Regions from separate parts of the Homo sapiens genome. Here region 1 is linked to region 2. Evidence: fine-mapped expression QTL. A gene starts in region 2. The other region holds a variant in brackets. All regions are shown on one strand. Distances are from middle to middle.

Evidence for each region.
Region 1: its variant is fine-mapped to the expression of CYP1B1 in whole blood (INTERVAL, PIP above 0.99).

The regions. Positions count from the first base shown.
Region 1 is chr2:38,121,231-38,137,196 of GRCh38, reverse strand. It overlaps CYP1B1-AS1 (CYP1B1 antisense RNA 1), which reads right to left and starts at 6,092. Exons shown (of 3, transcript NR_027252.1): 1 at 6,007-6,092; 2 at 5,583-5,686. All of the region lies in intron 2 of LOC107985871 (a long non-coding RNA gene), which reads left to right. The variant G/T (reference allele first, on the strand shown) is at 8,288.
Region 2 is chr2:38,071,771-38,087,661 of GRCh38, reverse strand. CYP1B1 (cytochrome P450 family 1 subfamily B member 1) reads left to right here and starts at 11,511. Exons shown (of 3, transcript NM_000104.4): 1 at 11,511-11,882; 2 at 12,273-13,316. The coding sequence starts at 12,274. RefSeq lists silencers at 10,396-10,515, 11,426-11,515, cis regulatory regions at 10,559-10,588, 11,509-11,516, an enhancer at 10,490-10,688 and a promoter at 10,155-11,530.

The DNA.
Region 1 (15,966 bases), 49 kb before region 2:
ATGAATGAAATGAAGCGAGAAGAGAAGTTTAGAGAAAAAAAATAAAAAGAAATGGACCAAGCCTCCAAGAAACATGGGACTATGTGAAAAGACCAAATCTACATCTGATTGGTGTACCTGAAAGTGACGTGACGGGGAGAATGGAACCAAGTTGGAAAACACTCTGCAGGATATTATCCAGGAGAACTTCCCCAATCTAGCAAGGCAGGCCAACATTCAAATTCAGGAAATACAGAGAATGCCACAAAGAAAATCCTCCAGAAGAGCAACTCCAAGACACATAATTGTCAGATTCACCAAAGTTGAAATGAAGGAAAAAATGTTAAGGGCAGCCAGAGAGAAAGGACGGGTTACCCACAAGGGAAGCCCATCAGACTAACAGCTGATCTCTCGGGAAGCCCATCAGACTAACAGCTGATCTCTCAGCAGAAACTCTACAGGCCAGAAGAGAGTGGGGACCAATATTCAACATTCTTAAAGAAAAGAATGTTCAACCCAGAATCTCATATCCAGCCAAACTAAGCTTCATAAGTGAAGGAGAAATAAAATACTTTACAGACAGGCAAATGCTGAGAGATTTTGTCACCACCAGACCTGCCCTAAAAGAGCTCCTGAAGGAAGCACTAAACATGGAAAGGAACAACCGGTACCAGCCACTGCAAAAACATGCCAAATTGTAAAGACCATCAAGGCTAGGAAAAAACTGTACGAGCAAAATAACCAGCTAACATCATAATGACAGGATCAAATTCACACATAACAATATTAACTTTAAATGTAAATGGGCTAAATGCTCCAATTAAAAGACACAGACTGGCCAATTGGATAAAGAGTCAAGACCCATCAGTCTGCTGTATTCAGGAAATCCATCTCACGTGCAGAGACACACATAGGCTCAAAATAAAGGGATGGAGGAAGATCTACCAAGCAAATGGAAAACAAAAAAAGGCAGGGGTTGCAATCCTAGCCTCTGAGAAAACAGACTTTAAACCAACAAAGATCAAAAGAGACAAAGAAGGCCATTACATAATGGTAAAGGGATCAATTCAACAAGGAGAGCAAACTATCCTAAATATATATGCACCCAATACAGGAGCACCCAGATTCATAAAGCAAGTCCTTAGTGACTTACAAAAAGACTTAGACTCCCAAACAATAATAATGGGAGACTTTAACACCCCACTGTCAACATTAGACAGATCAACGAGACAGAAAGTTAACAAGGATACTCAGGAATTGAACTCAGCTCTGCACCAAACAGACCGAATAGACATCTACAGAACTCTCCACCCCAAATCAACAGAATATACATTCTTTTCAGTACCACACCACACCTACTCCAAAATTGACCACATAGTTGGAAGTAAAGCACTCCTCAGCAAATGTAAAAGAACAGAAATTATAACTAACTGTCTCTCAGACCACAGTGCAATCAAATTAGAACTCAGGATTAAGAAACTCACTCAAAACCCCTCAACTACATGGAAACTGAACAACTTGCTCCTGAATGACTACTGGGCAAATAATGAAATGAAGGCAGAAATAAAGATGTGCTTTGAAACCAAAGAGAACAAAGACACAACATACCAGAGTCTCTGGGACACATTCAAAGCAGTGTGTAGAGGGAAATTTATAGCACTAAATGCCCACAAGAGAAAGCAGGAAAGATCTAAAATTGACACCCTAACATCACAATTAAAAGAACTAGAGAAGCAAGAGCAAACACATTCAAAAGCTAGCAGAAGGCAAGAAATAACTAAGATCAGAGCAGAACTGAAGGAAATAGAGACACAAAAAATCCTTCAAAAAATTAATGAATCCAGGAGCTGGCTTTTTGAAAAGATCAACAAAATTGATAGACCGCTAGCAAGACTAATAAAGAAGAAAAGAGAGAAGAACTGCATAGATGCAATAAAAAATGATAAAGGAGATATCACCACCGATCCCACAGAAATACAAACTACCATCAGAGAATACTATAAACACCTCTACGCAAATAAACTAGAAAATCTAGAAGAAATGGATAAATTCCTCAAACACATCCATCCTCCCAAGACTAAACCAGGAAGAAGTTGAATCTCTGAATAGACCAATAACAGGCTCTGAAATTGAGGCAATAATCAATAGCTTACCAACCAAAAAAAGTCCAGGACCAGATGGATTCACAGTCGAATTCTACCAGAGTTACAAAGAGGAGCTGGTACCATTCCTTCTAAAACTATTCCAATCAATAGAAAAAGAAGGAATCCTCCCTAACTCATTTTATGAGGCCAGCATCATCCTCATACCAAAGCCTGGCAGAGATACAACAAAAAAAGAGAACTTTAGACCAATATCCTTGATGAACACTGAAGCAAAAATCCTCAATAAAATACTGGCAAACCTAATCCAGCAGCACATCAAAAAGCTTATCTACCATGATCAAGTGGGCTTCATCCCTGGGATGCAAGGCTGGTTCAACATATGCAAATCAATAAATGTAATTCAACATATAAACAGAACCAAAGACAAAAACCACATGATTATCTCAATAGATGCAGAAAAGACCTTTGACAAAATTCAACAACCCTTCATGCTAAAAACTCCCAATAAATTAGGTATTGATGGGATGTATCTCAAAATAATAAGAGCTATCTATGACAAACCCACAGCCAATATCATACTGAATGGGCAAAAACTGGAAGCATTCCCTTTGAAAAGGGGCACAAGACAGGGATGCCCTCTCTCACCACTCCTATTCAACATAGTGTTGGAAGTTCTGGCCAGGGAAATTAGGCAGGAGAAGGAAATAAAGGGTATTCAATTAGGAAAAGAGGAAGTCAAATTGTCCCTGTTTGCAGATGACATGATTGTATATCTAGAAAACCCCATTGTCTCAGCCCAAAATCTCCTCAAGCTGATAAGCAACTTCAGCAAAGTCTCAGGATACAAAATCAATGTACAAAAATCACAAGCATTCTTATACACGAATAACAGACAAACAAACAGAGAGCCAAATCATGAGTGAACTCCCATTCACAATTGCTTCAAAGAGAATAAAATACCTAGGAATCCAACTTACAAGGGATGTGAAGGATCTCTTCAAGGAGAACTACAAACCACTGCTCAATGAAATAAAAGAGGATACAAACAAATGGAAGAACATTCCATGCTCATGGGTAGGAAGAATCAATATCGTGAAAATGGCCATACTGCCCAAAGTAATTTACAGATTCAATGCCATCCCCATCAAGCTACCAATGACTTTCTTCACAGAACTGGAAAAAACTACTTTAAAGTTCATATGGAACCAAAAAAGAGCCCGCATTGCCAAGTCAATCCTAAGCCAAAAGAACAAAGCTGGAGGCATCACGCTACCTGACTTCAAACTATACTACAAGGCTACAGTCACCAAAACAGCATGGTACTGGTACCAAACCAGAGATATAGATCAATGGAACAGAACAGAGCCCTCAGAAATAATGCTGCATATCTACAACCATCTGATCTTTGACAAACCTGACAAAAACAAGAAATGGGGAAATGATCCCCTACTTAATAAATGGTGCTGGGAAAACTGGCTAGCCATATGTAGAAAGCTGAAACTGGATCCCTTCCTTACACCTTATACAAAAATTAATTCAAGATGGATTAAAGACTTAAATGTTAGACCTAAAACCATAAAAACCCTAGAAGAAAACCTAGGCAATACCATTCAGGACATAGGCATGGGCAAGGACTTCATGTCTAAAACACCAAAAGCAATGACAACAAAAGCCAAAATTCACAAATGGGATCTAATGAAACTAAAGAGCTTCTGCACAGCAAAAGAAACTACCATCAGAGTGAACAAGCAACCTACAGAATGGGAGAAAATTTTCGCAACCTACTCATCTGACAAAGGGCTAACCTCCAGAATCTACAATGAACTCAAACAAATTTATAAGAAAAAAACAAACAACCCCATCAAAAAGTGGGCACAGGATATGAACAGACACTTCTCAAAAGAAGACATTTATGCAGCCAAAAGACACATGAAAAAATGCTCATCATCACTGGCCATCAGAGAAATGCAAATCAAAACCACAATGAGACACCATCTCACACCAGTTAGAATGGCAATCATTAAAAAGTCAGGAAACAACAGGTGCTGGAGAGGATGTGGAGAAATAGGAACACTTTTACACTGTTGGTGGGACTGTAAACTAGTTCAACCATTGTGCAAGTCAGTGTGGCGATTCCTAAGGGATCTAGAACTAGAAATACCATTTGACCCAGCCATTTGACCCATTACTGGGTATATAGCCAAAGATTATAAGTCATGCTGCTTTAAAGACACATGCACACGTATGTTTATAGTGGCACTATTCACAATAGCAAAGACTTAGAACCAACCTAAATGTCCAACAATGATAGACTGGATTAAGAAAATGTGGCACATATACACCATGGAATACTATGCAGCCCTAAAAAATAATGAGTTCATGTCCTTTGTAGGGACATGGATGAAACTGGAAACCATCATTCTCAGCAAACTATTGCAAGGACAGAAAACCGAACACCCCATGTTCTCACTCATAGGTGGGAATTGAACAATGAGAACACATGGACACAGGAAGGGGAACATCACACACCGGGGACTGTTGTGGGGTGTGGGGAGGGGGGAGGGATAGCATTAGGATATATACCTAATGCTAAGTGACGAGTTAATGGGTACAGCACACCAACATGGCACATGTGTATATATGTAACAAACCTGCATGTTGTGCACATGTACCCTAAAACTTAAAGTATAATAATTAAAAAAAAAAAAAGACAGGACGATAATACACATTTGGTGATACAATTAAGAAACATGATATTGGAAAGTTGCTGACCAAGTGCCACCTAGCATTCCTTCTCTTGTACTAGCCACATGCCCACTCCTCATGGCTACTGCTAGCCTCATCTAAGAACTGGGGACCCAGCCTGGCAGGATAAGTGTGGCTCCATGCTTTAAGCCAGAGAATTTAGGAGACTATGATCTGTTGCTGTGTCAATCTGAAAGCTGAGGGATCTGAAGGGTACGTGGTACCCATTCTCTGACTCTCACTCCCAAAAGTCCTTTTCTCCCTGGGTCAACATACGGTTGGTGCCCAAGGCCCTTCCTAGGAATTGGAAGCCAACAGTGACACAAAGCACTTAGGAGGCACACAACCACAAATGTGTGAGGTTTGCCTTCCCATATTTTCTGGACCCATGTTCAAGCCTGGAACTCTCTAGTTCATAAAGGGTTTTACTCTTGCAGGAGTCAGCAAACTATGGCCTGTGGGTGGAGGGCCAGATGGGGCCATGCTCATTCATTTACATACTGTCTAATGGTTGCTCAAAAATCACAGAGTTGAGTAACTAAGACAGACTGGAAGGCCCACACAGGCAAAAAATGTACTATCCGGACATCCACATAAACAGTTTGCAGGCCACTGATTTAGAGTAAGACCAGTTCTCCTGGGGGCAATGGATTGTCTTTCTTTGCTTTCAGCCTGACCAATGCCCGTGGGTAGGGATGGAGAGGGAGCCCATCTCTCTAGTTGATTCTGATGAGAAGAACCAGGGTGACCCACCTGGAATGTGAGCCTCTGATCTTCCAGGCATCTGGCATGCCCATTTCTTCCACAGAGCAGGATAGAAGCTCCTCCCAGCAGGGGGTCTTGACTATTTGAGACCACTGTAAAAGAAAAGTAAGAACAAGTGATTCACGTTTGTGTTTCCTGTAAAAAGAACATGGTTGTCAGTGCTATTAACCTGGTTACCACTGACTTTGACGCAGATACAGCCGGTTCATGTTTCAGAACTTCATGAAACAGGCCTGTGCCTTCAATCAGAGGCAGCCCAAAAGACAAAATTGCCAACACTTTCTATTTGCAGTGGCCCAGGAATTATCAAATAACCTTAGTTCCTATTAAACTCCTGCCTATTTACCATTGCCTAAACCTGGAGGCAAAATCTAAATCCAAACCATCACAGGTAATCTCCAATCTCACATACTTTTCCAAAAGATTCATGTGTTAGGAAAGGATGATTGATGGCTCAAAAGTCACCAGTGCCGATTCTTGTGTTAGCAACCATAGTTGAAGTCAATGCTTAGAACTGGCGTGGGAAGATGTTCTCAAAACTGCAGCTTTGTGCCTTTGTGGTTATGTAACAGCCTCCTCCATACAGAGGATTACTACGAATGGGTGCTTCCTGCTGTTGTCTCATGTTGATGAGGCATTTTATATTCTTGAGGAATATTCTGGAGGGAGGAGGTTGGTGAAGACTGGTAAAGTAGAGAAGAGAGACATTTTAACAAAATATTCATATTTATCTGGTCTCTAACATGAAAGCTGCATATTTTGTGGTATATTAATTAAGTCATTTTTATAAGTTATAAATGATACTAGTACAGTAAGTCCTCACTTAATGTCATCGATAGGTTCTTGGAATCTGTAACTTTAAGCAAAACAACATGCAGCAGGTTCATAAATAATGTCACTTCCTTTAACGTTTTGTTATAACGTTGATGAGAAAAAAACGCTTTTGTTACATGTCATTTTGCTTAAAGCTATAGTTTCCAAGAAACTGTCGATGACATTAAGTGAGAACTTACTGTATAATAACATTATGTTAGAGTTTAGTGGGCTCCCAAAAGATCTTCTCTTACCAGGTAGACAGTTCTCTCTTTTAGAGATAAAAGAATTGAGCCTCACAGAGGCCGTATGAGCAGTCAGAGTCCCACTATGTTCCCACCTACCATTCACCACTAAATCCTTAGTCTGGCTGCAGAAAACAGAAAAGATTTATTTCCTCAAAAGTCAACTTCTTTAGACTACATTGACCCTAATAGAATTCAGAAAGCAACTCTTAGACTCAAATTTTTCTGCTTATTGCCACCACCACACTCCCCCAGTCATATGACAAGAGTCGTTTGCGGTAGGAAGCAAAACCAGAAATGCACTTGAGCAGTCTTTCTATGTCCTTCCTTGCCTCACCCCCATTGGGGGCCTGCATGATGGTGAGTGGCCACATAAACAGTCCCTACGTCTCCAGGAGTTCCCTTGGCCATGGCTGCTGGAATGACTCATCCTTCTCCATCTGTAGCCTAGGCTTTCCCCTTCTCCTTAATTTCCATGAGGGAGCAGTCTTAGATCAGAGCCTCCCCAAGGGGACAGGACCACAGCCCTCCCTAAAAGGTCCTGGATCTGGTATAAATCTAACCATGGGAGAAAACAGAATTCAGTTACAGACAACATCAAGGGCAAACTTGAAGGGGAGCAAAAATCACAATATGGGTGTGGGAACTGGACCACAGAGTTACAGTGGTCATTTCCTCCCCACCACATCTTGTGAACTTTACCTTGCCCACTGCCCCAAGGGGCAACCATGTGGCTCATGGCCCTGGCCACCAATAACTGAATTGGGAGTAGACCCACTTTAAACATGACCCACTTTAACCAATCAGACATCTTTATCTAGAACTTGGAGTTGGGACACAGAAAGCCTGAGGGTGTTTTTTTATCTGTGAGTGCTAGACTCACAAGATTCTGTGGGCTCAAGGACTGAGTTAGACAGTCATTTAAGGTCATGTGGTAACAGAGTATGCTTGACGAAGGGGGAGGATGGAGCAGAGACAAAGATAACTGAGAGAAAGGGAGGAGGAAGGGCAGCTCCAGACTCTAGCCCTTCAGTGATCCAGGTGCAATTCTTCAAACTGGGTTTCACAGTATTCCGTTATCACTGTGCAAGTAATCCCCATTTACTTAAGTTACTCTGAGTGGGTTTCTGGCCCTAGCAACTGAGTGCTCCCCCACCATAAGATGAAATGGCTAGGCTGGAGCTGGGAGGCAGAGGCAGTGAGTGAGGAAGCTAGACGGATTTTTCCAGAGAAAGTAAGTCCTAGAGTCCAAGCATATGCACGCTATCCACACGTTCCAAATTTTAGGAGACAGCCCTGTTTCAAATGTGCCAGCTTGCCCAAATTTCTGTTTAGGCAATTGTGGTATATCTGTTTATATATATAATTTTAGCATTGGGAAGGCCCTCCTAAGTAAGACACAAACCTGGAAACCACAAAGAAAAGAAAAGATTGACAGATTAGACTACCTAGCCCTAAATTTTAAATTGCCTTTGACAAAAGCCACCATCAGCAAAATTAAAAGTGAAGGGGCAGCTTGGGATCTAAGTGACAGCTGGAGAGCCCCTGCACACTACAGACTCCCTCCTGCTGCAGATCAGACTTCTGGACAAGTCCAGCCCTGGCTTTGTGGCTGTCATGACTACTGAAAATGTC[G/T]TAACTGTTGGCAGCAAGAACATGACCTCTTGCTGTCCCAAAATGAGGAAATGAAAGGGAAAAAAGAGGAAATGGGATGAAATGAAAAATGGATGCAAACAACAGAGAGTGAGCAAGAAACATTGAGAAAGATGAAAAAAATGAGCTGTTTATCTCTCCTCTGCTTCTGGGCCCTCTCCTTTGTGCTACCCTAGTGATGTGCTCTATTGGTCCATTCTTACGTTGCCATAAAGAACTGGGTAATTTATAAAGAAAAGATGGTTAGTCAGCTCATGGTTCCTGTGGGCTGTACAGGCTTCTGCTTCTGGGGGAGGCCTCAGGAAACTTACAATCGTGGCACAAGGTGAAGGGGAAACAGGCCATTAGCAGCAGGAGAGGGGCAAAGGAGATGCTACACACTTTCAAACAAGCAGATTTCCTAAGAAATTGGGGGAATGGCGCTAAACCATTAAAAACCACCCCTGTGATCCAATCACCTCCCACCAAACCCTCCCTCCAGCACTCGGGATCACAGTTCAACATGAGATTTGGGTAGGGACACAAAGCCCCACCATACCATTCCACCCTTGGCCCCTCCCAAATCTCATATCCTCTCACATTGTAAAATATAACCATCCCTTCTCAACAGTCCCCCAAAGTCTTAACTCATTCCAGAATTAACTCAAAAGTCCAAGTCCAAAGTCTAATCGGAGACAAGGCAAGTCCCTTCCACCTATGAGCCTGTAAAATCAAAAACAAGTTAGCTACTTCCAAGATACAATGGGAGTACAGGCATTGGGTAAATACTCCATTTCCAGAAAGGAGAACTCAGCCACAACACAGGGGCTACAGGCCCCATGCAAGTCCGAAACCCAGCAGGACGGTCATTAAATCTTAAAGCTCCAAAATAATCTTGACTCTGTGTCTCACATCCAGGCCATGCTGATGGAGGGGGTGGGCTTCCAAGGCCTTGGGCAGCTCTGCAGGGTACATCCCCTGTGGCTGCTTTCATGGACTGATGTGAGTGCCTGTGGATTTTCCAGGTACACAGTGCAAGCTGGGGTCTGGAGGAGGATGACCTTCTTTTCAGAGCTCCACTAGGCAGTGCCCCAGTGGGGACTCTGTGTGGGGGCTCCAACCCCACATTTCCCCTTTGCACTGCCCTACTAGATATTCTCCATGAAGGCTCTGCCCCTGCAGGAGACTCCCGCCTGGACATCCAGGCCTTTCCATACATCCTCTGAAATCTAGGTGGAGGTTCCCAAGCCTCAACTCTCATCCTCTTTGTACTTGCAGGCTTAACACCACATGGAAGCCACCAAGGCTTGTGGCTTGCACTCTCTGGAGCAGCAGTCTGAGAAGTATCTGGGGCCCTTTTGGCCACAGCTGTAGCTGGAGCAAGTGGGATGCAGGGTGCCATGCCCCAAGGCTGCACAAAGCAGCAGGGCCCTGGGCCTGGCCCCATGAAACCATTTTTCCCTCCTAGGCCTCCAGGCCTGTGATGGGAGGGGCTGCCCCAAAGGTCTCTGGAATGCCTCATAGGCATTTTCCCCATTGTCTTGACTGCTAATATTTGGCTCCTCTTTACTTATGCAAATTTCTGTATTGGGCTTGAATTTCTCCCCAGAAAATGGGTTTTTCTTTTCTACCACATGGCTAGGCTGCAAATTTTCCTATCTATCTTTTATGCTTTGCCTCCCTTTTCAGGTCATTTCTTTGTTTATGCAGATGAGTTAGGCTTTTGGAAGCAGCCAGGCCACATCTTGAGCACTTTGATGCTTAGAAATTTCTTCTGCCAGATACCCTAAATCATCTCTCAAGGTCAAAGTTCAACAGATCCCTAGAGCAGGAGCACAATGCCACCAGTCTCTTTGCTAAAGCATAGCAAGAGTGACCTTTACTCCAGTTCTCAATAAGTTCCTCATCTCCATCTGAGACCTCATCAGCCTGGCCATCTCTGCCCATATCACTATGAGCATTTTGGTCAAAACCATTAAACAAGTCTCTAGGAAATTCCAAACATTTCCTCATCTTCCTGTCTTCTTCTGAGCTTTCCAAACTGTTCCACCCTCTGCCCATTATCCAGTTCCAAAGCTGCTTCCACATTTTCAGGTATCTTTGTAGTAATGCCTCACTTCTCTGGTACCAATTTTCTTCATTAGTCTGTTCTTGCATTGCTATAAAAACTACCTGAGACTGGGTAATTTATAAAGAAAGATGTTTAATCAGCTCACAGTTCTGTGGGCTGTAAAGGCTTCTGCTTTTGGGGAGGCCTCAGGAAACTTACAATCATGGCAGAAGGTAAAGGAGAAACAGGCACACCTTCACATGGCCAGCAGGAGAAGGGCAGCGGAAGTGCTACATGCTTTCAAACAACCAGATCGCCTGAGAACTCTATCATAAGGCAGCACTGTGGGGATGGTGCTAAACCATTAGAAATCACCCTCATGATCAAATCACCTCTCACCAAGCCCCACGTCCAACACTCAAGATTACAATTTAACACGGGATTTGGGTGGGGACCCAGAGCCAAACCATACTATGCACTAACTCATTTAAGCTGTTGTTATCTTAATCATGGGCTCACTGTAGAATGGGAGTGGTAGGAAGAAACATTAAGTGAGTGGTCATAATGGTGGCTTAGAATTCAAACCCATTCCATGTGACCCCTCACCCATGCTTGGCAAATTAAATCCATGATAATCCAAAGGGTTTCAAAATCGATTTTTTTTAGGTCTAACCGTTTCCTTCCCATTCTTATCATTTCCTCTTCCCTTAAAGCAAATTCCCTTTATTCTTACCACCCACTAGAATGGAGACTTGAAATTAGGTTCTTTCAGCTTGCCAAATGATAAACAGCTCTCTCAAATTAAGCCACATCTCATCCAGAGAGAAGGCAATAAAAATAGTGATTTATGTGGTTGAGAGTACAGTGAGACGTTTTTATAGCATCACAGATGGTTTTCCAAATTGCAGAGCAGCTTTATTTCTTTCTGCATATCTCAGTTTCTCAGTCCACAATTTGAAAATAATAAAGCTGCCCTCTTCCTACTTCTTGGGTGAATTGGTTAAATCATGAAAATCTATAAATAAAAGCACTTTGAATCCTAGAGAGAAGAGTCAAATAATAAAATAATCCCATTTTTCATCCATATGATGAAATTATATAAGGTCCCCCATATAATGGGGGACCTTATATAATGAGAAGGCTAGGCATATTGCTATGTTTGTGGGCAAATGATCTGGCCCAGAGAACACCTGACTCCTAGGAGTGTCAAGCTGGGGAAGAGGACTCAAGTATATACACAGTACCGTTATTTCAGATGTATCTTTGATAGCTCTAAAGTAACTACTGGAAACACCTATAGGGTGGCATGATAAGATAACTGAGATTTACATTTATACTTTACTACTCCCATTGGTTTTAAAAAACAAGACTGCTTGAGTTTGGTTTTCATCATGGCGGCTTCAGTCTTAGCCCAGGCTCTCCACATACTCTCTGTTCCAACTTCGACCCTAGGTGTACATGAGATCCATTCTCAGCACCTCTGGGCCCATTCCCTTCTACCCAAGCCAGGAGTGCTGGGTGCTGAGATTTAACAATCCAGATCAGAAGCGGCACCATGCAGTGTTGAGAACACAGGCCCTGGAGCAAGTCTGCTGCGTGTGAATCCCAACTCGCCTCTCTGACCTGGCATATCTCCTTATCCGTGATATGGGCATGGCACTAACATACCTACTCATAGGACTCTGGGGACAGTTAAACGAGACAGGGTCCATAAAGCACTTAGCTCACTGCCTGGTACAATAAATGGTGACTACTTTTTATAGGCAATTGTGAGAAACATGGTGAATGTGGGCAGGGTAAAATAGTTGGATTGGTGCTTCTTCTGCAGGTGGCATTCAACTCTTTTTGTGTTTGTTTGTATTTATTTTTCTTATAGCAAATTTCCTTTTTTAAACTGTGACCAAACAAATAGAATGATTGCTATGGTTTTACAATTTGCATGGCTGAATGAATATACCTTTGATAGTTTTTTTTATCATGTTTCTAATTGTTAGAAAAAAATTCTTTTTTCCTCTTCTGGGATTTCAGGGCATTACATTGGAAAATAGGTATTAAACTGATATGGGACAGAGGCCATGGCATATATCCTACAAAATCTGTATCTACACTCTTATATTATACTTACTTGCCCATATCTTTGAACTTGGGGCCAATCATAAGATCCTACATTCTAGTTACCAGAAAAAGAACATAGTAATTGAGTATGTAATTGAATATTGTTGGCTGGGAGTGGTGGCTCACGCCTGTAATCCCAGCCCTTTGGGAGGCCAAGGTGGGCGGATTACTTGAGGCCAGGAGTTTGAGACCAGCCTGACTAACATGGTAAAATCCTGTCTCTACTAAAAATTCAAAAAAATTAGTCGGGGGTGTTGGTGTGTGCCTGAAATCCCAGCTACATGGGAGGCCGAGGCAGGAGAATTGCTTGAACCTGGGAGGTGGAGATTTCAGTGAGCCAAGATCGCACGACTGCACTCCAGCCTGGGCAACAGAGCAAGACTCTGTCTCAAAAAAAAAAAAAAAAAAAAAAAAAAAGTTTATGGGTGAGTATTGAGCTAAGTGCATTATCCCATTCAATCCCCAATCTTATGAAGCAAATACTATCATTAGCCCTATTTTACAGATGTGGAAAGTGAGCCTTAGAGAAGTAAGTAATTGCCATAAGTCACACATCTGAGAAATAATGAAGTGAAAATTTGAACCAAAAGCATCTGGATCCAGAGCCTATGTTTTAGGAACTTGCTGTGGCTTTGATGCATCAGAATGTGGGAGCTGCAGGCCTGCGTGGACTAGTCTTGGACTCTTAACTGCTCTGCCATCCCACAGCAGCTGATAGGTTCATATGAAGCCACTGGCAACTGGTGCCAAGTTACCAGTAAGAAAATCAGACATTTTGATCTATCTATCAATTGGAATGTGCATGTCCAGAATAGATCTAGATATTTTTTAAAAAGCATTCAATGCCTAATTTTTAAACAAACTGCACATGCGAAGAAAATGCCCATGCATTTCTTTAAGCAGAAATATAAGTTAGTGAATTTGTTTCTTCTTGATAAAATGGTTAGAATTTGCTTAGAAATTCCTTTTATCATAAAAGTAAAAATTATCAGCTTTAACCTTCTCATTTGTCTCCTACTGCTTCTTTTCTTGTTCTTTATTCTCATCCATCCCCTTCTCTGTCTTTGCCTCTACTCTTCCTCTATTCCTTCATAAGAATCTAAACAACTCCTTTAAACATCAATTCAAATGTTCTTCCCTTGGATAGAGATCACTTCCATCCCCTTCATAACTAGCTGGGCCTAGTACCTTTGGGTTAGCAATTTTGCCAGAGATGTTGGAGAAAAAGGGGGTAGCATTTCCTCTTGAAAATCCAGCCTGCAAGGCATTTACAATCTCATGCTGGTTTCGTAAGGCCCTGCTGTCCCTCCAGAATAGAGGCCCACAGCACTCACTAGGTACCAGGCATGGTGAACTTGCTTGCCCAAGCTCTCTAGTAGGTGGCAGATTTACCCAGGTCTGCCTGACTTTAGAGCCTATTCTTTTAATCATTGTACCTTACTGTCTTTATAGACAAGGTCAGGCTCTCTATGCTTCTGTGAGATAATTTTCCCTAGGAGTGTAAATAGTTACTATAGAGACACTAGATGCCACCTGCTATAGCCCTCAGAAGTGGCATCAGACTATGCCTGGGCTTTCTGTTTTAAGGACAAGGAAGAATGAGTGTGACAGTGAAAGGTTGTATTTGTAAAGGCTGGAAGAGCAGAAATCCCCAAGTGCTAGAGAAAAGAATGTGGACAAGTGTATGGTATCCAATCATAGTATGTTAGAGCTGAGTTGGGCTTTAAAGATGATCTCCTCTAACCCCTTTATTTGCAGTTGAAGACGTTGAGGATCTGAGACATTAAGTGAATTGTCTGAGGACACACAGCCAGTTTCTTAGATGCAGAGCCAAGGATGAATTTTTTTCATTCAGACTAAGCTGTTTTTTGCAGTCCACCTTTACTCTACTTGGGGTTCATTTCTTTTTAAGAAGTCTCAAAGATTAGAAAATTGAGTCATTTTGAGCAATATAATGTCATATTGTACAATTCTGCTGAAAGTAATTTTAATAGCAATGCCGGCAGATCTCCCAAATCCATGGGTTTCAAAATATTTCCGCCTTTTGCTAAGCTAATATATAGAATTTCAAAACCATATTTATACCACATACAATTTCCAAAGAGCTGGGCAATTTCCTATAAAAACTCAGCTGTGCACTGATTGCCAAGTTGGAAAACTCAGGGTTTCCTGGCAACACCCACTTGGGCTCTAGGGAATGCAAGCTTCTCAGCAAACAACCTCTCCTGACTTACGAGCTCCATCGGCAGCCACGACCCGAGTCACAGCGGCCCTTTCTGATGTTCTTGTCTCTGTCGCTTATGTTTCTCAAGAACCTGTAATCTTGCCTTAATCCCTCACCAGCTGAATACCTCCTACATGCTAAACTCCTGGAATGAAAGGTCCACATTTCTCTCATGCTAGGAGTTTGGGACCAGAATTCAGATGAACTCATTGCTAGTACTGGTTCAAAAGCTAATGAGCCCTCTAGATTCCCAGGTCCTTAGTTTCCTCATGGGTAAAATATAGACAATAACTCCTACCTGTTCATCTTTCAGGGCTTTTCCGAAGATTTTCAACATCTGAAATTCACAGGATCATGGAGACGAACTAAACCATCATGGAGACTAACTAAACCAGATGCATCTAGCCCCTCATGTTAGAGTTGAGAAAACAGAAACCCAGGGTTTGGGGACTCCCTTGAAGTCATCAAGTTCCTGTTGATGGCAAAATCAGGACCAAGCTTCTGATCCTCCCAAATATTCCTTCACTTCTCAGTGCTGCCTGTGATGAGAAAGATCAAAGCATGCATACAATTATAAATCATGACACAGAGGCAACATGCAATTATTTAGGTACTAATTAATAGACTGTGTACCAAGTCAGCACTAATGAAATTTTTCATGCCTTGACAGGGTAGTAGCTTGTCAGGAATTTCTGAAGATGAAAAAACTATTCATCTTAGGACAAATCCTTCTCCTTCCAGTAAATACAAGGAAAGGAGGAAGTGTAACCAGGGGTATTTAAGCTCAGCCTCCTCCAGCAGCCATCTGCTGCTGCTTTTTTTTTTTTTTTTAAATGTTATTGAGATGTAATTTACGTACCATAAAATTCACCATGTTAAGGTGTGCAGTAGTATATTCACAAGGTTGTGTAACTATCACTACCCTCTAATTCCAGAACATTCTCATCATCCTGTTGCTTTTTGAATGTCAGTATTGTCAGCTCGAGTACAGCTTCACTCACATGTGGCTCTCAGTTGTATTCTGTAGTGTTCATCTTGACCCACATGATCAGATGCCCCAAGTTCACTCTGTATTTGAAGAGCTCCGTGTCTACTAAAGGTCTGATTCCCTACTGCGGGCCAATAGTAGGAATGAGATGGTCACTAAGCGTCAAAATAAGCACTAGCAATGAGAACCTGAAAAGCAAAACTCAGCCACCAAGGCTAATTTTCAGGGCAAAAAGAGGAGAAAATTTCCTAAGCCAAGAGTGGGTAGAACTGGAAGTGGGAAGTGGGGCTGGTTTAAGGACGGTG
Region 2 (15,891 bases):
GAGGAAGATAGGAGTGGACCCAGAGAAAGGGAAAATGAGAGACAGAATGAGAGAGAAGAAAGAAGGATGAAGCAAGGGGAAGGAAAAGGGCAGAAGGAAGCAAACCAAAGGAAAGAACTGGGAATGATGCTGGGAAAAACCATTAAAGCACAGCACCATTTGCTGCATTTATGAAGCACATAGAACCCTGAGTAGATTATGCCCCTTAACACAGGGGCACAGTAGAACTAAGGGCATGACACTGCCTTATATCATATTTCTTCTGCTTTCAAAAGGAATTGAAGAAAGCCTAAGATAAAAGAGACAAGACACACTCAAGCCATTCAAAGAACAAGGACGGCACAGAAAGTACAGGTTATAATCCATAGTGCTGAGGAGAAAGACTGCAATTGAGCACAAACTTTTTATTAGTCCTGAACTCCAGGAGTGACACATCAGATGCAGGACCCTGAACAGCAGACTAATCCCACTTTCTTTCCACTGTCCTTGCTTACAAGAAACCCTCAAGAGAAGCTAAGAAGGCAATGTAAGATCAAAATGTTGGGAAGATCTTTTTTTATGTTCTTATATTTAACTTTTAATTTTGATATAATTACAGAAGAGTTTCAAGGAATCACAAAGAACTCCCATTTACCCAGATTCTCCAATTAACATTGACCACACTTACTTTCTCATTCTCCTCTCTCTCCCTCTCCTTCTCCCCAAACCCCTCTATTTTTTCCTTGAGCCATTTGAGGGTAAGTGGCAGACATTACACCCCTTTACCTCTAAATATGCATTTTGGTGAGGAACTAGAATACATGTAGCTTTCACTACATGTATTTCTGTCACTTTCACTAATACCAGACAGAGCTCATGGGCAACGAGATTGGAAGGGGAGCAGGAGTAGGAAACTTGTTTTAAGCTGCAACTACTTAGCAAGTGACTATCTTTTCTTAGATTAATTTAGGTCAATAAAAATAGCAGAATCTTCTAAATCACCTTCTCACCAACTTTACATAGGATTGAGAAAACATCAATTGTCTACATTTGTCTACATGAAATAATATTAATAGAAATGAGGATTGGTAGCCAATACCCTTGGTGCTAACCACTCCAAGAAATCTAGAAAGTGCTTAATACAAAGAAAGAATCCTTGTCAGCCTGTATTGTTAGGCCCCTGAGCCCAAGCTAAGCCATCATATCCCCTGTGACCTGCACGCACACATCCAGATCGCCGGTTCCTGCCTTAACTGATGACATTCCACCACAAAAGAAGTGAAAATGGCCTGTTCCTGCCTTAACTGATGACATTGTCTTGTGAAATTCCTTCTCCTGGCTCATCCTGGCTCAAAAGCTCCCCCACTGAGTACCTTGTGACTCCCACTCCTGCCTGCCAGAGAACAACCCCCCTTTTTCCTTTACCTACCCAAATCATATAAAACGGCCCCACCTGTCTCCCTTGGCTGACTCTCTTTTTGGACTCAGCCCGCCTGCACCCAGGTGATTAAAAGCTTTATTGCTCACACAAAGCCTGTTTGATGGTCTCTTCACACGGACATGCATGAAATTTGGTGCCATGAGTCGGATCGGGGGACCTCCCTTGGGAGGGCAATCCCCTGTCCTCCTGTTCTTTGCTCCATGAGAAAGATCCACCTACGACCTCAGGTCCTCAGACCGACCAGCCCAAGGAACATCTCACCAATTTTAAATCGGGTAAGCGGCCTCTTCTTACTCTCTTCTCCAACCTCTCTCACTGTCCTTCAACCACTTTCTCCTTTCCACTCTTCAATCTCTCCCTTCTCTTAATTTCAATTCCTTTCATTTTCTGGTAGAGACAAAGGAGACACGTTTTATCCGTGGACCCAAAACTCCGGCGCCGGTCAGGGACTGGGAAGGCAGCCTTCCCTTGGTGTTTAATCATTGCAGGGACTGCAATGATTATTCACCCAGGTTTCAGAGGTGTCAGACCATGCAGGGACGCCTGCCTTGGTCCTTCACCCTTAGCGGCAAGTCCTGCTTTTCTGGGGAAGGGGCAAGTACCCCAACCCCTTCTCTCCGTGTCTCTACCCCTTCTCCTCCTTTCTGGGGGGCAAGAAATCCCCAACCCCTTCTCCTTCACCCTGAGCGGCAAGTCCTGCTTTTCTAGAGGAGGGGCAAGTACCCCAACCTCGTATCTCTGCACCCCAATCCCTTATTTCCGTGCCCCGACCTCTTATCTCTGCGCCCAATCTCTTATTTCCGCGCCCCAACCTCTTATATCTCTGTGCCCCAATCCCTTATTTCCACACCCCAACCTCTAATCTCTGTGCCCCCATCCCTTATTTCCGTGCCCCAACCTCTTCTCCGTGCCCCAACCCCTTTCCCGCTTTTCTGGAAGGTAAGAACCCCCAAACCCCTTCCCTCCATGTCTCTACTCTCTCTTTTCTCTAAGCTTGCTTCCTTCACTATGGGCAACTTTCCACCCTCCATTCCTCCTTCTTCTCCCTTAGCCTGTGTCCTCAAAAACTTAAAACCTCTTCAACTCTCACCTAAATTAAAATCTAAGCATCTTATTTTCTTCTGCAATGCCGCTTGACCCCAATACAAACTCAACAGTAGTTCCAAATAGCCGGAAAACGGCACTTTCAATTTTTCCATCCTACAAGATCTAAATAATTCTTGTTGTAAAATGGGCAAATGGTCTGAGGTGCCTGACATCCAGGCATTCTTTTACACATCGGTCCCTCTCTAGTCTCTGTTCCCAATGCAACTCATCCCAAATCTTCCTTCTTTCCCTCCCACCTGTCCCCTCAGTCCCAACCCCAAGCGTCGCTGAGGCTTTCTAATCTTCCTTTTCTACGGACCCATCTGACCTCTCCCCACCTCCCCAGGCTGCTCCTCGCCAGGCCCAGCTAGGTCCCAATTCTTCCTCAGCCTCCGCTCCTCCACCCTATAATCCTTTTATCACCTCCCCTCCTCACACCTGGTCTGCCTTACAGTTTCGTTTCGTGACTAGCCCTCCCCCACCTGCCCAGCAATTGACTCTTAAAAAGGTGGCTGGAGCTAAAGGCACAGTCAAGGTTAATGCTCCTTTTTCTTTATCCCAAATCAGATAGCGTTTTCATCAAACATAAAAACCCAGCCCAGTTCGTGACTCCTTTGGCAGCAGCCCTGAGACGCTTTACAGCCCTAGACCCTAAAAGGTCAAAAGGCCGTCTTATTCTCAATATACATTTTATTACCCAATCTGCTCCCGACATTAAATAAAACTCCAAAAATTAGAATCTGGCACTCAAACCCCACAACAGGATTTAATTAACCTCGCCTTCAAGGTGTACAATAATAGAAAAAAGTTGCAATTCCTTGCCTCCACTGTGAGACAAACCCCAGCCACATCTCCAGCACACAAGAACTTCCAAACGCCTGAACCGCAGCGGCCAGGCGTTCCTCCAGAACCTCCTCCCCTAGGAGCTTGCTACAAGTGCTAGAAATCTGGCCACCAGGCCAAGGAATGCCTGCAGCCCAGGATTCCTCCTAAGCCATGTCCCATCTGTGTGGGACCCCACTGGAAATCGGACTGTCCAACTCACCTGGCAGCCACTCCCAGAGCCCCTGGAACTCTGGCCCAAGGCTCTCTGACTGCTTCCCAGATCTTCTTGGCTTAGCGGCTGAAGACTGATGCTGCCCGACTGCCTTGGAAGCCCCCTAGACCATCACAGACGCCGAGCTTCGCGTAACTCTCACAGTGGAAAGTAAGTCCGTCCCCTTCTTAATCAATACGGAGGCTACCCACTCTACATTACCTTCTTTTCAAGGGCCTGTTTCCCTTGCCTCCATAACTGTTGTGGGTATTGACAGCCAGGCTTCTAAACCTCTTAAAACTCCCCAACTCTGGTGGCAACTTAGACAATACTCTTTTAAGCACTCATTTTAGTTATCCACACCTGCCCAGTTCCCTTATTAGGGCGAGCCACTTTAACTAAATTATCTGCTTCCCTGACTATTCCTGGATTACAGCTACATCTCATTGCTGCCCTTCTTCCCAGTCCAAAGCCTCCTTTGCGTCCTCCTCTTATATTCCCCCACCTTAACCCACAAATATAAGATACCTCTACTCCCTCCTTGGTGACCGATCATGCATCCCTTACCATCTCATTAAAACCTAACCACCTTTACCCCGATTAATGCCAATATCCCATCCCACAGCATGCTTTGAAAGGGTTAAAGCCTGTTATCACTTGCCTGCTACAGCATGGCCTTTTAAAGCCTATAAACTCTCCTTACCATTCCCCCATTTTACCTGTCCTAAAACCAAGCAAGCCTTACAAGTTAGTTCAGGATCTATGCCTTATCAACCAAATTGTTTTGCCTATCCACCCCATGGTGCCAAACCCATATACTCTCCTATCCTCAATACCTCCCTCCACAATCCATTATTCTGTTTTGGATCTCAAACATGCTTTCTTTACTATTCCTTTGAACCCGTCATCCCAGCCTCTCTTTGCTTTCACTTGGACTGACCCTGACACCCATTAGGCTCAGCAAATTACCTGGGCTGTACTGCCGCAAGGCTTCACAGACAGCCCCCATTACTTCAGTCAAGCCCAAATTTCATCCTCATCTGTTACCTATCTCAGCATAATTCTCATAAAAACACACGTGCTTTCCCTGCTGATCGTGTCCGATTAATCTCCCAAACCTCAATCCCTTACAAAACAACAACGCCTTTCCTTCCTAGGCATGGTTAGTGCGGTCAGAATTCTTACACAAGAGCCAGGACCGCACCCTGTAGCCTTCCTATGCAAACAACTTGACCTTACTGTTTTAGCCTAGCCCTCATGTCTCCATGCAGCGGCTGCTGCCGCCCTAATACTTTTAGAGGCCCTAAAAATCACAAACTATGCTCAACTCACTCTCTACATTTCTCATAACTTCCAAAATCTATTTTCTTCCTCACACCTGACGCATATACTTTCTGCTCCCCGGCTCCTTCAGCTGTACTCAGTCTTTGTTAAGTCCCACAATTACTATTGTTCCTGGCCCGGACTTCAATCCGGCCTCCCACATTATTCCTGATACCACACCTGACCCCCATGACTGTATCTCTCTGATCCACCTGACATTCACCCCATTTCCCCATATTTCCTTCTTTCCTGTTCCTCACCCTGATCACGCTTGATTTATTGATGGCAGTTCCACCAGGCCTAATCGCCACACACCAGCAAAGGCAGGCTATGCTATAGTACAAGCCACTAGCCCGCCTCTTAGAACCTCTCATTTCCTTTCTATCATGGAAATCTATCCTCAAGGAAATAACTTCTCAGTGTTCCATCTGCTATTCTACTACTCCTCAGGGATTATTCAGGCCCCTTCCTTCCCTACACATCAAGCTTGAGGATTTGCCCCCACCCAGGACTGGCAAATTAGCTTTACTCAACATGTCCCAAGTCAGGAAACTAAAATACCTCTTAGTCTAAATAGACACTTTCACTGGATAGGTAGAGGCCTTTCCTATAGGGTCTGAGAAGGCCACCGCAGTCATTTCTTCCCTTCTGTCAGACATAATTCCTCAGTTTAGCCTTCCCACCTCTATACAGTCTGATAACAGACCAGCCTTTATTAGTCAAATCAGCCAAGCAGTTTTTCAGGCTCTTAGTATTCAGTGAAATCTTTATATCCCTTATGGTCCTCCGTCTTCAGGAAAAGTAGAACGGACTAAAGGTCTTTTAAAAACACACCTCACCAAGCTCAGCTACCAACTTAAAAAGGACTGGACAATACTTTTACGACTTTCCTTTCTCAGAAGTCAGACCTGTCCTCAGAATGCTACAAGGTACAGCCCATTTGAGCTCCTGTATAGACGCTCCTTTTTATTAGGCCCCAGTCTCATTCCAGACACCAGACCAACTTAGACTGTGCCCCAAAAAAACTTATCATCCCTATTATCTTCTGTCTAGTCATACTCCTATTCACCGTTCTCAACTACTCATACACGCCCTGCTCTTATTTACACTGCCGGTTTACGCTGTTTCTCCAAGCCATCACAGCTGATATCTCCTGGTGCTATCCCCAAACTGCCACTCTTAACTCTTGAAGTAAATAAATAATCTTTGCTGGCAGGACTGTGCTGAATCTCCTTAGGCACTCTCTAATCAGATGTCCTGAGTTGTCCCAATTCTTAGACCTTTTATACCTGTTTTTCTCCTTCTCTTATTCCATTTAGTTTTTCAATTCATACAAAACTGTATCCAGGCCATCACCAATAATTCTAAATGACAAATGTTCCTTCTAACAACCCCACAATATCACCCCTTACCACAAAATCTTCCTTCAGCTTAATCTCTCCCACTCTAGGTTCCCACACCGCCCCTAATCCCGCTGAAGCAGCCCTGAGAAACATCGCCCATTATCTCTCCATACCACCCCCAAAAATTTTCGCTGTCCCAAAACTTTACCACTATTTAGTTTTATTTTTCTTATTAATATAAGAAGACAGGAATGTCAGCCCTCTGAGCCCAAGCAAAGCCATCATATCCCCTGTGACCTGCACGTACACATCCAGATCGCCGGTTCCTGCCTTAACTGATGACATTCCACCACAAAAGAAGTGAAAATGGCCTGTTCCTGCCTTAACTGATGACATTTTCTTGTGAAATTCCTTCTCCTGGCTCATCCTGGCTCAAAAGCTCCCCCATTGAGTACCTTGTGACCCCCACTCCTGCCCGCCAGAGAACAACCCCCCTTTTTCCTTTACCTTCCCAAATCCTATAAAACCGCCCCACCCCTGTCTCCCTTGGCTGACTTTCTTTTCAGACTCAGCCCACCTGCACCCAGGTGATTAAAAGCTTTATTGCTCACACAAAGCCTGTTTGGTGGTCTCTTCACACGGACGCGCATGAAATGTATAATGCTTTGTCAGCTCCAAATCATACCCTCAACTTTCCATTTTACATCTCCGAAATCTGGATGTATCTTAGAGTCGATGATGCAATTATAATTGGTAGCTTCCTTTCTTTATGTTAGTACATAAAAATAAGGGTGCATCCTACAAATGATGGCTTCTGAGATTAGATAAAATACCTTTCTATTAGCTCTGTGGTTCTCTGCCTGTGTATTGCCAGGAGGAAGGAAGTGGAGCATTTCAGGTGAGGCACAGGGTTTTGGTATCAATTCCTAAGATTCCTTTCATGGTCCAGCCCCTGGTGTGCATTATCCTACAGTTCCTCCCTCTATCGCACCCTCAGCCACTTGGTGTGTCTCCTTATTTCTGCTCCTCTTGCCTACCAGCATGTGCCTGATGACTGAATCCTGCCCACCCAAATGTCAAGAGCCTACCAGAGATGGCTTATTCTCCTCCACTCTCCTCAGTGCATGTGGGTATGTGTGTTTGGAGATGACTGGAAAAGCACAGTGGCTACCCATTAAACTGACTTAGGGGTCACACTAGAGAGGAAGACCATGAAGAAAACTGAGTTCCAGCCTGACAGCAGAAGGGCAGAGCTTTCTGGGCTACTGGCTCTAAGGGCAATGCATATATCTGCTGATTTAAAATAATAATAACAATAATGGCTTTGGGTTTCCTTAGGTTATCCTCCAACCCAAAGAAACCAGTGGGCAGACATGTATACATGGAGTGGACTGGGTCAGCTCTTTGGCTTCCTAGCATGTTCTGCCATCTCTTTTTTTCTGATGACAGAACAAGCCCTTGCCCACAGGGTAAAAACCTGATGCCAGCCTGGCCCCCTGGAGTCCTTCTAGGACCCTGGAAGAGAGCTGTTCTCTTTCTCTTTGTTTTGTTAATTTTAAGCTGCTTCCTTGCCATGCAAAGAGAGAAAGCCCAAGCAAAGACCAGCATAGGCAGAGAGCCGGTAGAGCGGCCTGGGTCCTTGTATCCTGTGAAGCATCACGGTTATCCTTCTCTGCACATGGGCCAGTGCATTCCTGTTCTGCTTAAACAAGCTTAAGTTGTTCCTTCGAGTCAATACAAGATAAGATATTTTAAACCTCTCTCTACTTTAAACTATCCCTCTAGCTTAGCTGTTCTTTTTGAAAGTTATTTGCAACAAACAATTCAAGTTTGAGATTTGGGAGGGCAGAATGCCCATATTCTGTGTTGATTGAAAGGAGATTCCTGGGCCTTAGGTCCCTGCTTTGGTTGAGAAGTTGTGATGATAATTAAAGAGCCTGCGTAGATTCTCACTAGAGGCAGGGCTCTGCCTTGAGTTGGGTCGGGGTGCCAACAGGCTGCTCTGGATTTATCCGAAGTCCTTATCAGGGTACCGGATGGGGCATTCAATGAAGTTTGCACCATAAAGCCCTAAGAACTCCAGGCTTGAAGATTCTCTGCAAAAAGTGTTACCATAGCCAGTCATTTTGGTTTGCCATAACCGATAAGGGCTTATCTTTCTGACAGCACTTACCAACCTAGTTCCTCTGATTTTTGAGTCATGTCCTAGAAAAAGAGCTGAGCCCAAGGAACTACAGCTTGGAGGATATATCTGATCTATCTGCGATGGCAGGAAAGCATGCATCTAGTTGATCTAAAAACTAGATGGCATTATTGAGGAGTTGGACAGGCGGTCTTAGGAACAACCTCGTTTTATACTTTTTAAAAATAGGAATTTACTTAAAGGCAACTTCCATCTGCTCTCATTCTGGCAGAGGTATTGTGATAAAGGCTTTCAGGAATGTCAACAGCTCAGGATTGGCATTAGCTCATAGATAATTCCCGTCTACTAAATTAAAGTCTATGAGAGATTGATGCATGCACCAGAGTCTTGAATTATTAGGCAAGGATCTTGCTAAAGCTGGACATGGGAAGGTTGCTATGAAACTCATTTCAAAGGCTGTGTAGGCCAACTCACCTCTGGGAAACCAACGCTTATTATTAAACCAATGCAACTGCTCAAAAACTAAAACTCCATCACTATCTAAGTTCCCCATCATGGTGTGTGAAATCATTTCCAGAAAACTCTTCAAAAGATACCGAATAAAAGGCATCACAGGCCGGGCACGGTGGCTCATGCCTGTAATCCCAGCACTTTGGGAGGCCCAGGCTGGTGGATCACCTGAGGTCAGGAGTTTGAGACCAGCCTGGCCAGCATGGTGAAACCCCATCTCTACTAGAAAAATACAAAAATTAGCCGGGTGTGGTGGTGCGCACCTGTAATCCCAGCTACTTGGGAGGCTGAGCCAGGAGAACCTGGCAGGCGGAGGTTGCAGTGAGCCGAGATCACGCCATTGCACTGCAGCCCAGGTGACAGAGTGAGACTCCATCTCAAAAAAAATAAATAAATAAAAATAAAAATAAAAAAAGCCATCACGAAAAGACATTTCTTTATCAGGTCAGCAAATTGATTGCTGGTTTCAATCTCTCAAGAAGTCAGATTCTTTTCAGACACTCCTTTGTGTTTCTTTACAATGTAATCAGTCATTCCAGGGTCAGCTATGAGGCACACTCCCCTGGCCTCCCTCATAAGCAATTTAATTGCAAAGGGTTAGCATACTATTTCTTCTCTGCTATTCTCAGAATTCTCAATTATGAAAACAAAAACAATAATTAAAAAGTTCTTCCAGCTGATTTTTTTTTTTTTTTTTTTTTTGAGACAGAGTCTCACTTAAACTCTGCTGCCCAGGCTGTAGTGCAGTGGTGCAATCTCTGCTCACTGCAACCTCTGCCTCCCACGTTCAACCAATTCTGCTGCCTTCCCCCCTGATCCCCGAGTAGCTGGGATTACAGGTGTGCACCACCACGTCCGGCTAACTTTTGTATTTTTAGTAGATGGGGTTTCGCCATGTTGGCCAGGCTGGTCTCGAACTCCTGACCTCAAGTGATCCGCCCGCTTAAGCCTCCCAAAGTGCTGGGATTACAGGCGTGAGCCACTGCGCCTAGCCCCACGTGCATTTTTTTTTTTAAGGGAGGCAGGAAAGAAGGCATTTGGGCCTCTTATCTGCAATTTTCTTCCGTGTAAACTTATGTGAAGGATCTGGAGTGGGACTTGGTGGCTTCAAGCCCTGGCTCCACTTCTTGATGGCTGCGCGACCTGGGTTAAGTCACGCAACCTCTCTGAACCCTAGTTTATTCATCTGTAAACAGGTCAATAATAGCACGAGATTCGCAGCGCGAGTGGAGCTCAAAGTGCAGGGTTGTCCCTGGTGAACCTATCACTTTTATATTTATCCTTTGATGAAGCCAGTACAATTCCTACCTGGTTAACCAGATACATCCCACCTCTTCCCTCGAGTTCGCCCTTCCCCCCGCCTCGTGAAGTCCTTGTTCTCTTAGCTGTCTTGAAAATCCTATGCATCAGCATGTAGGAAAGGGCGCGCCAGGCGGGGGAAGCCACCCCCGCCCAAGCGCCTCCGGCTTCCCTTATAAAGGGAGGGCCCCCTTCGCGACCGCAAGCGCGCCCAGGAAGACCACAGAGCCGCCGGTGCGCAGCGAGGTGGCGATACGCGCCCGGGCTCGGCCTGCGGGTGGTGGCCCAAGCGTCCGCCTCGCTGGCCTGGCAGGCGCGACTGTGCGTGCGCAGCCGAGGGTGGTGGCGGCCGGCACCCCACGCCAAGGGTGGTGGTGGCCGGCACCCCACCCTCGGCCGCCGCCTCCGCGTGTCAGGTGCCGTGAGAAGCGCGGGAGGAGCGGCCGCAGGCAGCGCCCAGGGATATGACTGGAGCCGACTTTCCAGAAGCGGCGCACGCAAAGCCCAGCTCCGCACGCAAAGGGGAGGCGACAGCAGAAACTTCAACCCGATAAAGTTCGCCGGAGCGCGGAGATTCGCCTCCTCCTGCCACTCTCCGCCCCGCTCGGGTCCCGCCCCGCTAGCTCCCCCAGGCCCCCCCAGTCGCCCCAGCTTGGCTCCCCGCCCTGCGCCAACGGCTTCCATCGCAGCCTGGGCGGCCCCGCGCCCACCAGCGGGCGGCGCCACCTGGAGTGGCCTCTACGCGGGAAATCTCAGGGCCAGCTGCGCCCCAGGAGCCTTTGTGTGCCCAAGCACTGTCGGGGCCCCGGGGCGGGGGAGCGGCTACTTTTAGGGATTCCTGATCTCGCCGCAAGAACTGGAAAAAATTTAGCATGCCAAAGAGCCTCCACTGAGGTGGCAATTTGTTTGCGAGAACCTAAGATAAAATTTAAACAACCAACCAGGGGCGCTGTGAGGCAAACCGCTGCCACTACACTGGCTTTCCGGGAAGCAAGCTCAAGTCGCGGAGAGGGAAGGGAGGTCGTGCGCTCGGGGCGGGGCGCGCTCCCAAGTCGAGCGCAGCGGCCGGGGCAGGTTGTACCGAGCGTGGTTCTGGGGACACCGTGCGGCCTCGATTGGAGGTGGCTGTGATGAAGCGCGGTTACCGCACAATGGAAACGTGGGCACCTCCGCTCCCATGAAAGCCTGCTGGTAGAGCTCCGAGGCCGGCCGGTGCGCCTGGACGGGAGTCCGGGTCAAAGCGGCCTGGTGTGCGGCGCGCCCCGCCCCCCGCAGGCCCCGCCCTGCCAGGTCGCGCTGCCCTCCTTCTACCCAGTCCTTAAAACCCGGAGGAGCGGGATGGCGCGCTTTGACTCTGGAGTGGGAGTGGGAGCGAGCGCTTCTGCGACTCCAGTTGTGAGAGCCGCAAGGGCATGGGAATTGACGCCACTCACCGACCCCCAGTCTCAATCTCAACGCTGTGAGGAAACCTCGACTTTGCCAGGTCCCCAAGGGCAGCGGGGCTCGGCGAGCGAGGCACCCTTCTCCGTCCCCATCCCAATCCAAGCGCTCCTGGCACTGACGACGCCAAGAGACTCGAGTGGGAGTTAAAGCTTCCAGTGAGGGCAGCAGGTGTCCAGGCCGGGCCTGCGGGTTCCTGTTGACGTCTTGCCCTAGGCAAAGGTCCCAGTTCCTTCTCGGAGCCGGCTGTCCCGCGCCACTGGAAACCGCACCTCCCCGCAGGTCAGTCTGTCTGCCGAGGCGCTGCCCGGCGACCTCTTCAGATGGATTATTACAGGTAGCGGGTGGCGTGGTAGGTACTTTAAAGGAAATCAAGCGCCACCGCCTCGATGCCCGCAGCGTTGTCCCCAGATTGCAGGAACCGTTACGCGCCTTGCGGGGAGGGGAAGGGTTTGGCGCTGGGTTACAGCGAGGTGGAAACACGCCCCTTCTCTTCTCCAAGGGAGAGTGGGTTGGGGATGGGAAGGGGCGTCTTCGGCCATTTCTCCAGAGAGTCAGCTCCGACCTCTCCACCCAACGGCACTCAGTCCCCAGAGGCTGGGGTAGGGGCGTGGGGCGCCCGCTCCTGTCTCTGCACCCCTGAGTGTCACGCCTTCTCCTCTCTGTCCCCAGCATGGGCACCAGCCTCAGCCCGAACGACCCTTGGCCGCTAAACCCGCTGTCCATCCAGCAGACCACGCTCCTGCTACTCCTGTCGGTGCTGGCCACTGTGCATGTGGGCCAGCGGCTGCTGAGGCAACGGAGGCGGCAGCTCCGGTCCGCGCCCCCGGGCCCGTTTGCGTGGCCACTGATCGGAAACGCGGCGGCGGTGGGCCAGGCGGCTCACCTCTCGTTCGCTCGCCTGGCGCGGCGCTACGGCGACGTTTTCCAGATCCGCCTGGGCAGCTGCCCCATAGTGGTGCTGAATGGCGAGCGCGCCATCCACCAGGCCCTGGTGCAGCAGGGCTCGGCCTTCGCCGACCGGCCGGCCTTCGCCTCCTTCCGTGTGGTGTCCGGCGGCCGCAGCATGGCTTTCGGCCACTACTCGGAGCACTGGAAGGTGCAGCGGCGCGCAGCCCACAGCATGATGCGCAACTTCTTCACGCGCCAGCCGCGCAGCCGCCAAGTCCTCGAGGGCCACGTGCTGAGCGAGGCGCGCGAGCTGGTGGCGCTGCTGGTGCGCGGCAGCGCGGACGGCGCCTTCCTCGACCCGAGGCCGCTGACCGTCGTGGCCGTGGCCAACGTCATGAGTGCCGTGTGTTTCGGCTGCCGCTACAGCCACGACGACCCCGAGTTCCGTGAGCTGCTCAGCCACAACGAAGAGTTCGGGCGCACGGTGGGCGCGGGCAGCCTGGTGGACGTGATGCCCTGGCTGCAGTACTTCCCCAACCCGGTGCGCACCGTTTTCCGCGAATTCGAGCAGCTCAACCGCAACTTCAGCAACTTCATCCTGGACAAGTTCTTGAGGCACTGCGAAAGCCTTCGGCCCGGGGCCGCCCCCCGCGACATGATGGACGCCTTTATCCTCTCTGCGGAAAAGAAGGCGGCCGGGGACTCGCACGGTGGTGGCGCGCGGCTGGATTTGGAGAACGTACCGGCCACTATCACTGACATCTTCGGCGCCAGCCAGGACACCCTGTCCACCGCGCTGCAGTGGCTGCTCCTCCTCTTCACCAGGTAAAGCCTCTGGGAGGCGTGGGCCAGGTCTTTTCTCCTCTGAAAAAGGCGGAGTAGAGACAGAATATGCTGAGTTTGCAAGCAGGGCCCCGGGTTTGGGGTTTCGCTCCAGGTCCCCACCCCTCAAAACCAAGATCGCGTCGGTAAAGGGACTCACAGTGAGGGCTGCGACACGCGCACGCGCCCCACCCAGCGGTGCCCCGACCCCTCCGGTCTCCTATCTTGTCTCTATCGTCCCCTCCCCTGCTTGCGAGTGAGAACACATTTGCAAAGACCCCTCCACCCCCCGGAAAAACAAGAGTTTTTAAATGCTTGGAGATGAGCCCTGATATCTCTCTCCCTGGCGCATTACAATCAGAACTGGAATAGTTCCGAAAGAAAAGGTAATGTCATAAATATGTTAAACACAGCAGCCTCTCCTAGGCTAGTCCTCGGCGTGCATCCGAGGCCGCCCAGCCCTGGCGCTAAAAGCGGGCCGCCCGTCAGGGCTTTGTTCCAGGCCAAGGAAGCCCATGGAGGCCGGGCCAGCCGACAGGTAACCCGCACAGAAACTTTCAGAAGGCGGCCACAACTAGCGGGCAGCGCTAGGTTTATAAAACCTCCGCGCTAGGAGTTTGAGAAATGCCGGGGTAGAAGACAAGAAGCAGTCACTTTTACGAAAGCAGAGTAGCATTCAGAAAGGCAGATGGGATATCCAGGAGGCGCCTGCAGACGTTTCTGGCCCCTGCGCTTGGCTCAGTTAGCGGACCCCCTGATGCCCACGTTGGTCTCTACTAAGCACGGATTCAACAGGTCCCTGGTGTCGGGTTGCCAGATTTGGCAAAAGAAAAGTAAGTTTTACACGGGAATACTCACACTAAAAGATTAGCCCTTGTTGATCTGAAATCCATATTTAACTGGGCGGCCTGTAGTATTTACTGTGGAAACACTATCCCTAGGGGCAAATGTTTCGCAAGGCAAATTTTGATTGCCGAAGAGACCAGAAATCCTGGTTTTGTGTCATTTCTTGGAGCACAAGTGAGCAGTTGGAGATGCTGAATCTGCAGGCGCCACAGAAAGGTGTTTGGAAGGCAGAGAATGACTCTTTCCTTATTAAAATCCACTGCAATCTATATTTCCTTAGATACTGTACAGCTACCTTCACAAATTAAAAGTTTCTGTATACTTAAAATGGCTTTTTAGTATTAAAATCATAGAAACACCCATGGTGGGTGAGGGAGAGGCAGAAATCGAATAAAGAAAAGTCAACCAGAGATCAGGGAAAAGGAAATCCCGGAATAGGTTCCATAGGTTTTTGTGCATCCGCAGATAGGCATTTTAACTTTTGAAACGGCCTTTGTTTTTCATTAGAACCACAATAGTTCTCCGAGTACTCCAATTAGGCGGCAAAAAGAAATAAAACAATTTGGAGGTCACTTTCAATTCAATATGCTGATACTTTTTTTTTCCTTTTTAGTGAAAAGACGTATGACAGGGCTTGGCAAATTACACGATCTGTTTTTGTATATACGTTTTATTGACGCAGTCATGCCCATTCATTTATACATTGTCGATGGCTGCGTTCACTCTACAACACAAGGCAGAGCAGAGTAGTGCAACAAAGAGGGTTTGGTCCACAAAGTCTAAAATAGATACTCTCTGGCTCTCCCCACCATACATGTTTCTATGAAAAAAGTTGGCAGACTCCTGCAATATAATGTTGAAGAAGCGATTCTAAAAATAACTCCACTTCATCACATACGTGTATACATTTTTTTTCGGAGTTGCAAACAATCAGTTACTTGTTTTTTGACTTCTAACACTTTGACTCAAGGTAGTGGACATTTCTAATCTTTTAATATTTATTTTGGTAATTTTTGATGGCTATATAGTATTTTGCTATGATAATGTATAGTTATATATAATCATTTATTGAACTTTAATGTTGGTCATTGGCCTTGATTGCATTTTTAAAATTTTTATTTTAATTTTATGTATTTACTTACCTTAGAGACAGGGTCTCACTACCTTACCCAGGCTGGTCCCAAACTCCTGGGCTCAAGCAGTTCTCCCGCCGCTGTCTGGCAGGTAGCTGGGGCTACAGGCGTGTACCACCATGCCTGGCTAATTTTTAGAATTTTAGGTCCTGTTGTGGTTACATATTTTTGTATCTCTTAAATTATTTTCTGAAAATACATTTCTAGGCATGGATTACTGGGTTTAAAATGAGGCGGGAAGAGGTTACCTTCATGTCTCTTGCCTCGTATTAAGATTTTGTTTTTTAAAAAGATTGTATCAGTTTGTATCATCAACAGTGAATAAGTACTACAGTTTGTACCATAATTTTATGAACATTGGGTATTTGCTTTCAAATTTAAAAAATACAGTATGTAGCTTTATCCATCAGGACACCAATTATCTTTGTATAAAATGAGAACAGCATGTCTGTTGGAATTGTCCAGGGAAATGAGGGAGAAAAAAAATTTACTTTCACATTGTAACTTTCGTGGGCCCTGGGTGCTTTTGCCTTTGTAGATTCCTTATACTATAAAAAAATTAAAAATTAAATTTCATGACTACCCTGATATAAAGATGA